Regions from separate parts of the Homo sapiens genome. Here region 2 is reported to be linked to region 1. Evidence: microRNA targets listed by miRTarBase, many of them from high-throughput screens and not tested one by one. Region 1 holds a microRNA gene; the other region holds the end of a gene's coding sequence. Distances are between the middles of the regions.
Evidence for each region. Region 1 holds the annotated microRNA hsa-miR-7158-3p (CUGAACUAGAGAUUGGGCCCA, at 2,788-2,808, shown strand). A microRNA usually pairs through its seed, bases 2 to 8, with sites in the 3' UTR of a target mRNA and lowers its output. Matches are read on the target gene's strand: a 7mer-m8 pairs with bases 2 to 8, a 7mer-A1 pairs with bases 2 to 7 and ends in A, and an 8mer does both.

Region 1 (4,283 bases):
ATGTCCTTAATAACCTGTAAGTTTAAGAACCTAGGGAATCTCCATGCTGGTGGCTGCGGTTATATCCCCTTATCCTCAACTCGTGAAGAAAGAGTCAAAAATGGCAGCAGGGTTGTGTCAACTGCTCTCCTCAGCAGCTATCATAAGGGAATTGCCTTTGTCATTTTCCCCAGCCATCACCACACTCCCACACGGCCACCATCACCTAAACCATCTGGCAGTGGGGGTTACCTCCTAAATCTAAGACGCAGAGACCCACCGCAGGCCTTTCTTTCTGGCTGCCCTCCACTCCCACCCAGAGGCTCAGTTTTGCTGGGCTGCACACCTCCGAGGACTCAGTTCTTTGTGTTTCATGTTGTTTCATATCCACTAGTGTTACAGAAACTGCTGCAAACCAGGGACCAAAAGTCCATAGGTTCTAATTCTAGCTGTGACACTAGTGAGATGAGTGACTGCTGGCAAGTTACTTTATCTATCTGACCTCACCTCCCATGTACAAAATTGGGTCTGTATGCACATTTGTGGTTCTAAATCCTGGAGTCCAAATCAGAGTTCTTTGTGCAAAATATACGTAGCTAGGTCCTAACCTCGGAGATCCTGACTCAGTCTGGGGAAAGGCGCAGATCTTGGGGAGAAAACAACTCTCTAGAAGAGTCTCGCCTTCAGTGAGTGACAAGATCTCTCCTGTCTCTCGGTTCACAATGTTACCCTAACTAATCCATCCTCTGATGTCACCTGCTAACAACTTCCCCTGTGGCATCAAACCAGTAGCCCATTTGCAGCTAGTACAAACACTTCTTTACATTTAAGTTTTGTTTACGAGATTTAGCCTACAATCATAGAGGCTGCCAGCTGGGTTTCAAATGTGTATGTTCCATTGCTAATAGGAAAAACTGCATCTATTAGAAAAATTCTCTCTGGGAGCTGAGCACAGAGGCAGGCCTTGTATTGCAAACATTTGAAAAGCCATAAGCAGGTATTCTGGACTGTGTTTTAGATCACCTGAGAACATTTCTTGAACACTAGTATTTGCTTAGAGTGACAAACCTATTAAGTGGTTCTTTCAGGTAAGTTTGCATCCAAGCAATGTCGTCTGAATCGCAGGAGGAAGTCAGGAGTTGTGTCTGGCTTTCTGGCCATACAAATGGCATATGGGAAAGTCATTGTATATTATTAATATCCTTTGATGTATATTATTATGACTTTCTCACGGTAGTAATGTTGTTGGTTTTTATTAATGTTATTTTTATAGCAATGCTAATATTATGAGCTAAAAGTTTCTGAGCATCTGCTGGGTGCCAAAAATTCTTATAAATGCTTTACATGCATTAGCTCCTAACAACACTTTGAAGTAATTCTTATTGTCCTTACTTGACATATACAGGAATAAAAACCTGACCATTAGACCGAGCGTGGTGGCTCACGCCTGTAATCCCAACACTTTGGGAGGCCGAGGCAGGCGGATCACCTGAGGTCAGGAGTTTGAGACCAGCCTGGCCACCATGGTGAGACCCCGTCTCTACTAAAAACACACAAAAAATTAGCCGGGCGTGGTGGTGGGTACTTGTAATCTCAGCTACCCGGGAGGCTAATGCAGGAGAATCGCTTGAACCCAGGAGGCGGAGGTTGCAGTGAGCCAAGATTGCGCCATTGCACTCCAGCCTGGGCAACAAGAGCAAAACTCTTTCAAATAAACAAACAAAACCTAAGCATTTGAGGGGTTTGGCCTGGGCAGTGGAGCTTGTGAGCTATATGAGCTGGAATCTGAGTCAAGGCTGGGCTGGTGAAAGGAGTTCACTCAAGTTCCCAAGGTATTCTGTCCTCCAGGACTCTGAATCACCTGGGAGGAGAAGGAATTGTGGCGGGCCTAACACCTTTTCTTTCCCAAACACCAAGAGCAGGTTCTTTCTGTTACATCCATTGAGGTCACATTCTTGAAGTGCATTTTGAGGAAGTCATTATTTTCGCTACAGCAGGGACTGATGTATCAGTCTATTAGAATTCAGAAAAAAGTAAGCAAACAAAAAACGTGTTGGAATTATTCTCTTCTAGCATTTTGAAATGTACAATGGTTAATGTTAACTATAGCCACCATGATGTATTGAAGACCAGGTCTTATTCTTTTTATCTAACTGTACATTTGTACCCATTAACCTAATGCTCATAGCATCAAGAAAAGATCAATATTTAAGGTGACAAATATCCCAATTATGCTGATTTGATTATATGAATGTGTTGAATTATCATATGTACTCCCAAAATATGCACATCTAAGATGTATCAATAAAAATAAAGACAAAAATTAAAGCTTTTACAGTAGAAAAAAGGTTTTAGAGAAATTATGATTACTTGATTCACCTAAACTGACAGTCTTGCTTGGAATGAATTACTGCTTTTTGTAACATAGTTTTAGAAGAGAGATTCACATTTAATGTTACTTTGTGCTAAGCACTGTAATCCATGCCTGGGTGCTCACAGCGCTCCTCTGGGACCAGGCATCACCATCTCCTCTGTAAAAGGAAGGTCAGCCTGTTGCCAAGACCACAGGATAAACGGCTTGGCTGATTTAGGAAACCCAGTTGGTCTTATGACAAAACATGCGCATTTGCCCTTCACCAGGTGATTTTTCTGTAGGGTTATCTTCAACAGTCCGACAAAGCTGTGTTCCACCAGCTCAGGCAGGCTGTGACCAGGATCACCAGCCATGTGGCATCAGGAAGAAGGGGCTGTGTGGCCAGGCTCAATCTCTGGTCCTGCAGCCTTCTGCCTTTGGCTTTCTGAAGCGAGCTGAACTAGAGATTGGGCCCAGCTCGGCAGCGCAGTTTCAGGAGAGCCAGGATACAAACCATCCCAGTCTCTGTTCCCACAAAGGAGAAGCTAAACCATTTTTTATTTGCCCATTCTAAGTGCTAAGTGATATGCAACTGCTTCACATAAGCCTTCCAGCCTTCCAGCCGACTCTGCTTTCAGGAGATATCCTTATGTCCCTTTTGCATGGCTTAGGAGAGTGAAGCACGTGAGAATTGAACGAGGGGTCAAGGGTCACATAACACATGAGCACGAAACCGGGACTCTCCTGGGGTATCAGACCCCAAAGCCAGTGGTCTGCGCTTGATCTTTGCTAACGTCCGAGAAGCAATAAGTCCAGGGCTCTTGACACATTATTGTGCATTTTACTTTGGGAGGGACTGTGGGTCCACTCTGCTTTTAACAGGAGGAAATTAAATATTTACATTTGATTCCAGTTTGGCCCCATGACTGTCCGGCTTCTTTCCTGTCAAAGGCCCAAATTCCCTGTTTTAAAGTAGAGGGTGAATTTGTGTAATGAGGATGGATCGGGCACGTGTAGAACACACTCTTTCACCTGCAGATTCACACTCCAAACACAAAGAAATACTGGATCATATATGGTATATTTTAAAAGATGCCATAGGCATACTTAAAAAGCACAACAGAATTCTATTTTCTCACGTCAGAGGGCAGAGTCTTATGAGCTATTGAGAGGAAAACTGTATCTTAGGGGTTGAGAGCCTAACGTCTGCTTGGGGGTGTTTGTGGCCCTGGCAGCTGTTGTGTGCAGTGCACATTAGAACTGAGCAGCTTTATAAAGCCAGGAACAAGGGTAGAGTCCCTGTGTCTCTGAATAGAAATTAGCGATGCTTAGCCTTCTGTACCAAGGAATGCATCACAAAAGCTAATGCTGGGACTGGGCCTGGTGTGGGATAGGAGTCACACAGAGGAGTCAGAACGCCAACTGTGGCTGGTGTAAGGGGCCTCCATTCACACTGTCTTTGCTGTTTGGAAAATCTGAGCAAGAATTTAAGGTAAAAGCTGATGTGGAACAGCTTGCAACCCAAAAGTCTCAAGCCCAGCATAAAAATCATTGCTCCAGTGAAGATGCCTGCAGAGCTCAAGGCATTTCTGAGACTCCATGGGAGAATGATTCCTAAGGAAGGTGTGCCCCCAGCACCTGTGGAGACTCATCACCTTGAGGGCAAACAGACTCTGTAAAAGGAGAATTCACCTCTAAGGAGCTGCAGACAATAGAGGGATTAAAATGGGCCTTTGATCATTCAAAAAGCATTTTAAAGGAAAAAATAAAGTAACATAATCCAAATTCCAACAGGAGACTTGAAAAAGAAGGTAATAACAAAATGGAAAATAAAGTCACTGAAATAAAGCAAGTGAGTTGGACTATGAATGTCTCCTGTCCATTAGCTGTGTCCCCGGCTGCAAGGTCCATGGGGACTGTGCCTCCCTTGACCTTGAATCTCAATGCCTTA
Region 2 (4,000 bases), 26 Mb from region 1:
TTCGCTGAATATGAGATAAATTATTAATAGCTACTGAATAAAGAAAGATTATTTAAAACCAGAGAGGAAACTCCATATATGTTCTTTAATCCAAACAGTTTAATTCAAGCAATCTGGAATATAAAAAGCACTTTCTGATATTAGAAGGAGATCAGACTCCCAAAAAAGATCAGCATTCTTTAGTCAAGCAAAACTTGGAAGTTTACAAACAGCTAAATCAGAAGCTTGAAATTCAGGTCCTCTCCAGTACCTGCTACATTATATGTAATTCCAAACATGACTTCAGAGATTAAAGAAGAAAGGGAAGATGTTTCCCATTCTTTTGTACCCTATATAAACTAAGGGTACCCTGCCCTAATCTTTTTTCCAACACTTCCCCAAATAACCCTTCCTTACAAAGAAAGAAGTCTAAGAGAACTCTCTCATCTAAATATATTTAAGTAGAGGCAAGCCTGAAAAAAACACAAAAACCTAAATGGTGTTAGGCTGTGGTTCACCTATTCTCATGGCACCTCAAATTAATGGCTTGGGTGTTGGTGTAGGTAACGCTTGGCCTGTATGTTGAGGTAGTCACTAGATAAAATTCTGGGCACAACATCCGTTTAGCAATTGGGCATACATTCTACAGATTTAGCCATAACGTTTTGAAGCTGATTATTTTACAGATCAACTAATTAATTCCTCTCCCTAACTTTACAGATGAGAAAGCTCAGATGATTTGCCCATGGGTTATAAAACTACTTCCTTACACAGTGGCAGCATCAGAACTGGAATTCAGATCTCTTGCCTCCTAGGCAGTGTTTTTCCTATTATAATATGGTGACTTCGTAAAGCAGGGTTAATTACATTCCACAAAGCTTACATCCTAATCACAAACAATGGGACAAATATTTAAATTGAACTTCTTTCTCTGTCTAGCTTCAAGTGATTCTGTGGCAAGATTTACTAGTAAGGCTGCTGCCTATAGGCCTATGCTGGGCAAGTTCCTTATTTTCATATCCAGAAGTTAGTCAGAGCTTGGCAAATAAGACTTCTCTATATAATAATGCCTGGCCCAATGTCCCCTGTAACATCTTACATGCAGGACGTAGGGCCAATTCTTTCATAACCCACAGGCAACTGTGAGTGTCCTTTCTCAAATAGTGAAGGTAGGTATTAAAGCACCTTTGGTGGGACAGATGCACAGGTGTTGCCTCTGAATTGGTGTTGAGGAAGTAGGCATAAAACCTCACACAGAACTGTGTTTGGTACCTGAACACTTTAAAATCCTATGGGGATGGGGAAGACATGCATGGGGTGGCAGCACATACCTCTTAACCATAACTCAGGACACGGCAGTTCAGATTTCATGCATGACCCTAATTCATATTTAGTTGAGATCAATGGAGGAAGAAGAATCATCCTGTAATAGTAGACCAATAACAGATACAGTAATAGTTGGAAAACATAAGATAAAGGCCAAGGAACAGGTTGCCTTATTACATTTTACGAAGTATCATTTTCCCCAGTAGTCAAGGTAGTGTAGGCTGTATTTCTTTAGCAGGTCACATGCCTGAACAGGGGTTGCAGATGCCAAAGACAATGACCAACTCCTCACTAAGAAAAAGGTATTTAGGACATGGTCACTTATTACCACAGATGACAATTCTGCTTGACAGAGATGGCTTCTTGGATGTTTTTAATCCACAGTGAAGAAAAAGGATTTCAAAGTGCTGCTCCTATTTGAAAGTGAATGAGTTGACTGAAGAAACTGTTGCAAAAGAAAAACAAAAATCTTCTCTAGATAGCTGGCTGATGGCTGGGAAAGTCATAAATCTCCAGGAGCATTGGATTCCAGGAAAGTTAAGTCCATTCTCAAAATCCCATTTTAAAACTGTTATGGAATGCATAATAAAATAAAACAATAAAAAACCCTCCTAGGTCATGTGTGACTGCTGCTTGTTATACTTTTTGGAAGTAATACTAGCCATGTTAGAAAGTCCTTAAACTCTGCATTTGGAAAACAACTAAAAAATAACATAATCTATGTAATTCTCACATTTCATCACAGTTAACAATTTCCCATTTTTGACAAAGCAAAACAAAAAGAAACTGCCCACTGCAGACCTAACAATGCTGTATTCTATAATCTAAGGTCCATTATGCTTTGGTAAAATTATATATGCTCAAATTCTTTGTGCAACTTGAAAAGACATCAAATTCCATATTATGTATGGAACTCCATGTGTTTTGGTAATATATCTGATATATTTTGTTAATAAAATAAGAAATTAAAAAGCCAATGAATGAAAATGTGTCAGGAAAGATAAATTCATTATGTCAGTATTTGATTAAATGTAACATAGAAAATTGGGATTCTTTCACTGCATATCACCAAAAGTTGGGTAGTCACTTAATCAAAATAAAACACTGAGAACCATGGACTATTTACAAATGTACTAAAATTTTTAAAGGAGAGAAACTTTAACAAAAATCTTGATAATTAAAAATTCAAATTGTGCTAGATAGAATGTATTCCAAAATTTCTGCTAAAAATTTTTGCTTTTAGTTTGTAAGACATAATTCAGGAGAACCTCAAAGAAAAATTTAGCAATTAAGTTTGGAAAAGCTATAAAAGAGACTTTTACTTTTTGAACAGACATTTTTCCCTTTCCCAAAATGTGTATTATTCAAGAAGCATATTTATAAATTTCATTAAAGAAAATATCGGCCAGGTGCGGTGGCTCACACCTAATCCCAGCACTTTGGGAGGCTAAGGTGGGTGGATCATGAGGTCAGGAGTTCAAGACCAGCCTGGCCAACATGGTGAAATCCCCCGTCTTTACTAAAAATACAAAAATTAGCTGGGCGTGGTGGCAGGTGCCTGTAATCCCAGCTACTCGGGAGGCTGAGGCAGGAGAATCATTTGAACTCAGGAGGCAGAGGTTGCAGTGAGCTGAGATCATGCCACTGCATTCCAGCCTGGGCGACAGAGTGAGACTCCATCTCAAAAAACAAAACAAAACAAAAACTAAGGAAGCCTTAATAAAGTACAGCCTTAAGTTAATAATAATGTATTGGCCGGGCACAGTGGCAGAGCAAGACTCCGTCTCGGAAAAAAAAAGAAATATCGTATCTTAGTAATGTGACAGATCTACTCCATCAAGTGGCTCTTATAAAGGTAAGGTCACATCACACTGCAGTCAACTACAAAACCAAAGATACCAAAATCCAAATTTAAAGAAACACATTTTCTAAAGGAAGCCTATTTAAAGCCTTTAACATTTACGAGGATTTCACTGTCACAAATACATTTTACAAAAATATAGTTTCATAGGTTTCATGAAATGTGAACAAGACTACTATTATCTAACATTTAGAGTAAATGATTAAACAGTCAATGCAAAGTTGGATTACTAAATAAATTGGAAGCCAAGGAGTCAATATTCCTTATAAAAATAAGTTAGAGTCTATCATGGTCTTGGTTGTCCAATTCTATTATTAGTTCCATATCTACTTGGTATATTTGTAAAACCAGTCCTCAATCCTTGAGTTGCTCCAATTCCTGGAACTCCAAGTCCTTGATTAAGCATGCTGCTGTAAGGTGTGTGTCCATGATTGAGACCAAAACCATAAGGCCTTGTTTGTGTGTTTAGAAGAATAACTGGGTTCACATTTTTCCCAGGAGTGTTAAATGAAAATTCTGGAGGTGGACTACTAGGTTTAGCTGGAGTTGATGTAACTGGGTTCAAATCATCAGTACCCTTTAAAAGAGGCATTGGGATTACGTGATGATCTGAAAAGTTTAGGACATTGGCTGCAACAGGCCCAGACAATAAGGCAGGCCTAATCCAGTCATCCTTGAAAATTTGAACAGTTAGAGTAGACACTAGAGTGTACAGCCTGTTGGTCACATGAGCAAGAACCATTTGTTCATTGGCATCTCGTCGAATTCTTACATGCACTGATCCAGCCTAAAAGGGGCAAAATCATAACAAAGAGATTGCTTAGAATTATACTA

Region 2: miRTarBase lists SLC30A6 as a target of hsa-miR-7158-3p. Seed matches in the 3' UTR shown: 7mer-A1 at 2,906-2,912 and 7mer-A1 at 897-903.

The regions. Positions count from the first base shown.
Region 1 is chr2:5,971,925-5,976,207 of GRCh38, forward strand. It overlaps MIR7158 (microRNA 7158), which reads left to right and starts at 2,738; the gene lies at 2,738-2,808. SILC1 (sciatic injury induced lincRNA upregulator of SOX11) reads left to right here. Exons shown (of 2, transcript NR_026832.1): 2 at 1-4,283. RefSeq lists enhancers at 2,305-2,806, 3,686-4,283.
Region 2 is chr2:32,220,166-32,224,165 of GRCh38, reverse strand. SLC30A6 (solute carrier family 30 member 6) reads right to left here. Exons shown (of 14, transcript NM_017964.5): 14 at 1-3,953. The coding sequence ends at 3,453. Among named protein-coding and RNA genes, the nearest start is that of NLRC4, 43 kb to the left of the region's middle.